Regions from separate parts of the Homo sapiens genome. Here region 1 is linked to region 2. The links come from fine-mapping of genetic effects on gene expression. A gene starts in region 2. The other region holds a variant in brackets. All regions are shown on one strand. Distances are from middle to middle.

Region 1 (2,919 bases), 34 kb after region 2:
AAGGGGCTCTTCTAGCTTCCAATAACATTTTCCTCCCTCTGACATCCTCCTTGGAAGCCCTTTGGGCTTCTGCTAATGCCTTCCTCGAGGCCCTTTAGGATTTAACTAGCAATCTCTTCATGATCCTGGCAGCATCCATCTGCTACTTGGTCCCAAAGTGAATGCCATATGTCTTAGGTTCTTGTTGTGGCAGGACCTCACTTCCAGGTACAAAATTTCTATTTTAAAATTATTATTTTGGGGGGTACACACGAATATATATGGGTTACATGAAATATTTTGATACAGGCATGCAATGTGTAATCACATCAGGATAAATGGGATATTCATCCCCTCAAGCATTTATCCTTTGTGTAACAAATGATCCAATTATACTCTTTTAGTTGTTTTAAAATATATAATTATTTTAGACTATAGTCACCCTGTTGTGCTAGCAAATACTAGGTCTTACTCTATTTTTTTGTACCCATTAACCATAGACCCACTGCACCTGCCTGTCCCACTTGCAACTCACTACCCTTCCCAGCCCCTCGTAACCATCCTACTGTCTATCACCGTGACTTCAATTATTTTAAATTTTAGCTCCCATAAATAAATGAGAACGTGAAATTTGTCTTTCAGTGCCTGGCTTATTTCATTTAACATAATGAACTCCAGTTCCATCCATGTTGTTGCAAGTGATAGGATCTCATCCTTTTTTAAGACTGAGTAGTACTCCATTGAGTACATGTACCACATTTTCTTTATCCATTCATCTGTTTGTGGGACACTTAGGTTGTTTCCAAATCTTGGCTATTGTGAATAGTGTTACAGTAAACATTAGAGTGCAGATATCTCTGATATACTGATTTCTTTTCTTTTGGGTGTATACCTAGCAGTGGGACTGCTGGATTATATGATAGCTCTTTTTTTTTTAGTTTTTCGAGGAACTTCCAAACTCTTCTCCATCATAGTTGTAATAATTTGCATTCCCACCAACAGTGTATGAAGATTCCCTTTTCTCCATATCCTCACCAGCATTTCTTATTGCCTGTCTTTTGGATAAAAGCCATTTTAACTGACATGAGATGATATCTCATAATAGTTCTGATGTGCACTTCTCTGATAATAATGTTGAGCTCTTTTTCATATACCTATTTGCCATCTGTATGTCTTCTTTTGAGAAATGTCTATTCAGAGCTTTTGCCCATTTATTATAATAATATTACTATTTTGTTCTTTTTTTCTTCTTTTTATTGAAACAGGGCCTTGCTATGTTGCCCAGGCTGGTCTCAAACTCCTAAGCTCAAGTGATTTGGCGACCTTGGCCTCCTAAAGTGCTTGGATTACAGATACGGGCCACTGCACCTGGCCTATTGTTATTATTATTTATTTTTTTAATTTTATTATTATTATACTTTTAAGTTTTACGGTATATGTGCACAACGTGCAGGTTTGTTACATATGTATACATGTGCCATGTTGGTGTGCTGCACCCATTAACTCATCATTTAGCATTAGGTATATCTCCTAATACTATCCCTC[C/T]CCCTTCCCCCACTCCACAACAGTCCCCAGAGTGTGAGGTTCCCCTTCCTGTGTCCAAGTGTTCTCATTGTTCAATTCCCACCTATGAGCGAGAACATGCGGTGTTTGGTTTTTTGTCCTTGCAATAGTTTGCAGAGAATGATGGTTTCCAGTTTCATCCATGTCCCTACAAAGGACATGAACTCATCATTTTTTATGGCTGCATAGTATTCCATGGTGTATATGTGCCACATTTTCTTAATCCAGTCTATTGTTGGACATTTAGGTTGGTTCCAAGTCTTTGCTATTGTAAATAGTGCCACTATAAACATACGCGTGCATGTGTCTTTATAGCAGCATGCTTTAGAATCCTTTGGATATATACCCAGTAATGGGATGGCTGGGTCAAATGGTATTTCTAGTTCTAGATCCCTGAGGAAACACCACACTGACTTCCACAATGGTTGAACTAGTTTACAGTCCCACCAACAGTGTAAAAGTTTTCCTATTTCTCCACATCCTCTCCAGCCCCTGTTGTTTCCTGACTTTTTAATGATAGCCATTCTAACTGGTGTGAGATGGTATCTCATTGTGGTTTTGATTTGCATTTCTCTGATGGTCAGTGATGATGAGCATTTTTTCATGTGTTTTTTGGCTGCATAAATGTCCTCTTTTGAGAAGTGTCTGTTCATATCTTTCACCCACTTTTTGATGGGGTTGTTTGTTTTTTTCTTGTAAATTTGCTTGAGTTCATTGTAGATTCTGGATATTAGCCCTTTGTCAGATGAGTAGGTTGCAAAAATTTTGTCCCATTCTGTAGGTTGCCTGTTCACTCTGATGGTAGTTTCTTTTGCTGTGCAGAAGCTCTTTAGTTTAATTAGATCCCATTTGTCAATTTTGGCTTTTGTTGCCATTGCTTTTGGTGTTTTAGACATGAAGTCCTTGCCCATGCCTATGTCCTGAATGGTATTGCCTAGGTTTTCTTCTAGGGTTTTTATGGTTTTACATCAAACATTTAAGTCTTTAATCCATCTTGAATTAATTTTTCTATAAGGTGTAAGGAAGGGATCCAGTTTCAGCTTTCTACATATGGCTAGCCAGTTTTCCCAGCACCATTTATTAAATAGGGAATCCTTTCCCCATTTCTTGTTTTTGTCAGGTTTGTCAAAGATCAGATGGTTGTAGATATGTGGCATTATTTCTGAGGGCTCTGTTCTGTTCCGTTGGTCTATATCTCTGTTTTGGTACCGGTACCATGCTATTTTGGTTACTGTAGCCTTGTAGTATAGTTTGAAGTCAGGTAGCATGATGCCTCCAGCTTTGTTCTTTTGGCTTAGATTGACTTGGTGATGTGGGCTCTTTTTTGGTTCCATATGAACTTTAAAGTAGTTTTTTCCAATTCTGTGAAGAAAGTCA
Region 2 (2,919 bases):
TGAACATCTGGAAGAACAGTGGTCTAGAAGAGGGAACAGCAATTGCACAAGCCCTGGGCCCAGAAGTAAATTAGCTTGTCCCAGGAACAAAATGAGTATTAGTTACTAATACTGATTATCTCAGGGATTTATTTGGTTCTATAAAGACTTACAAGCCAACATCTCTGTCCTAAAGGAGCTCTGTAACAGAGACAGACGTAAGTAAAAAAGATCACTATTCAGTGCAAAAGTACATTGCAGTGACAGCAGTATGGACAAGCTAAGGACTAAGAAGGAAGAGTGATTACTTCTCTGGGGTGTATTTCAGGGAAGGCATCACAAAGGTGGTGATGTAAAAGCAGAATTTTGAAATATCGTTAGAATTGACAAAGCAGGGAGTAGAGTTGTACTGGGGAAACAGTGCACAGAGAACACTGAGGGCAAAGACCTCCAGGCTGTTTCTTGTTAGTGAACCCTGAAATAGAAGAAAGTGACGCTCAAAAGGCACAGGCACCACCAGGCCATGATGGGCCTTATATTCGGTGCATGACTGGAGCTATCAAAAGACTCCAAGGAAGGAAACACAGCGTTGGATTCGTTTCACGTGACTGTCTCCCTTAAGTATGTCTTCGGGAGAATAAATGTTAAATGATAAAGTGGCAAAGGGGCTCAGAAAGAGATGAGAAACCTGAGAGGCTTTGAGGGGTTGACAAATAGTAGGACTGGATTTGCCCACTGTTTAGTCACTAATAACTTGCAGTACATGGCACTAATAAATACTTCAGGAAGGAATGTATGAAAATGAGTAAAATGCTGATTGGCTGGGTGTGGCAGCACCATGTCTGATGTGTAGAAGTCGTGAGCCCCCTCATTAATAGACAGTGATGTGTTGTTTTAATTCTAACAACCCTATATGTAATTCCACTTTTCAGGTGAGAAAAACCGTAGCCTCAGAGAGATCACGGTACCCTGCCAGAGGTTGTAGAACTTGTTGGAAACTTGGATCAAGAGGGTGTGACAAATAACCAGGTATGCATGCTTAAAAATTACTTTCTACTACTTAGCCTACAGGCTCAAAGAATGAAATTATCTCATAAAAGAGATAATTTATAAAGTCGCTCTCAAAAGAGGGACAACAGAGGGTTCCGGAACGTTCCCGCCAGCCGCCACGAGAAGACCAGAGAGGTGCATCACAACAGCCCAAAGTCAAGCCTACTCCCAACCCCCTTCCCCGCCATCCAGGGAAGGGGCGGGGCAGGGTTCTTGGTCCGCCGCTGTCGCCTGCGCAGTCGCAGTGCGGCTCGTGGCCGCAGCTGCCTGAAAGGGCAAAGGGACGAGTATACGCATGCGTCTATTCCTAGGCTGCTGGCTCTCAGACCCGCAGTGAGGTCTGACGTCATTTCCTGCCGTAAGTATACAGTGCCTCCGGGTCGCGGTCATTTTGAGCCCCTGTCTGGATGACTTCTTGCGGCTGTTCTACCCCTCCCCCTCCCCGCGGTACCTTGCACTTTTCTCCCTCCCTGCCCCCTCTCGAGTCCACCCTCCGGGCCTTCTGCCCCTGATCGCTTGGTTTTCCTTGCAGTCGCCTGCTGCTGTCGTCGGGAGGTGGGTGAGGTGACGCAAACAGCCCCGTTGTTGCCCTCCGCGTATCCCCTCACCACCTTTGCGGCCATCCACGACTTTCGCACCTTCCGCCATTTTCCTGCCTGTGAGGGTGGACAGATCGCGCTCGGGTCTCGGCCTCCTGAGTGCCGGTGACTGCGGGAGGCGACGGAGTGCTTCTGGGGGTGTGAGCTGGGGAAGTTCGTGGTCACGGATGCGTGTGGGGTTGCTGCTCAGTCTGTAACGGCAGGTGGGAGACGGACACTGGGTGGAGGATGGAGTGCGGTAATCAGCGGTTGTAGGCCGCTTAGGCTTTAATCCAGCGTTGTTTTGTGTAAAGAACTTAAAATGGTATTGTCTTAAGCGCCGTGTCAGCCCTGACAGTCTTCCTGGTGTTTCTAGGAAGGATGCCGTTATGGGAAATAAGAGGGTTTCATTTTTTCTCATACGGTTGTAGGGTAAAGGTAGTTTATTCAGCAGGCTCCATCCATCCATGAATTCAGCTGACCTTTTTTATTTCTTTTCTCTAATTAAGGGGTTGGCATGTAGTAGGCCTTCATGGCTTATTGACTGAATGAATTATGGAAGGGCTCAGTTGCTGTCCTCATTGTGTATGCCATTTCCTGTTTCCATGCAAATTGTTTTTAAAATGAGAATAATCATGATCCCACGTAAACGTTCTGTAAAATACGGTTACTTGATCTGTTGGTCTGAGTCCCAATATATGAGTTTTTAAAAAAAGAACCAAATAAAAAATGTATATTCTTGGAATTTTATGCATTTTTTTCTTATATTCTTGGGGTGGAAGGAAATTTGGAGATACAGAATTTGCTGTTAGTTTTACCTCACAGGGAGAAGGATATGTCGTCTTTGTTATTCCATAATTTTGGAGTGCTCCTTTGTGGGAGAGGTTGAATGTTTCTGATGATTATTTCATTTTTTAATATGGAAGCTCAGAAATGACTTGAAATTTTTTTTCTCTTCTATTTTGGGGAATTATCCTAATCATTGGGCATAGATTCGAGAAACGACCAAAACATAGGATGTGAAAGAACCCACTTCCAGGAGGAAAAAATATGTCTGTTATTTTATTGATATCTTGATAGTAAAAAAAATTATAAACTTATAAAACGCATATGCTTTTTCAATTAAGGGACTTAACCTGAATAGTGAGTTCCAAATTAATCAGTAGGTCTGTTACTTTTTCATCTAGCTATTTACATGTGGAGTACGTAAGATATAGTAGTGTTTAATAAATATTTGTTGATTGATTGCTGTGTAGACTAGTAGTTTTACTATATCATACGTCTTGATTTACTTTGACCTATCTAGTGATAG

The links. PIP is the estimated chance that this variant, and not a neighbour inherited with it, causes the effect. A credible set is the group of variants that fine-mapping cannot tell apart.
Region 1: its variant is the best candidate, but not a certain one, in a credible set for the expression of OCIAD1 in whole blood (INTERVAL, PIP 0.87).

Annotation. Positions count from the first base shown.
Region 1 is chr4:48,863,201-48,866,119 of GRCh38, forward strand. No RefSeq gene overlaps it. Among named protein-coding and RNA genes, the nearest start is that of OCIAD1-AS1, 4.5 kb to the left of the region's middle. The variant C/T (reference allele first, on the strand shown) is at 1,525.
Region 2 is chr4:48,829,666-48,832,584 of GRCh38, forward strand. OCIAD1 (OCIA domain containing 1) reads left to right here and starts at 1,423. Exons shown (of 9, transcript NM_017830.4): 1 at 1,423-1,584. RefSeq lists enhancers at 991-1,370, 1,213-1,776, 1,777-2,339.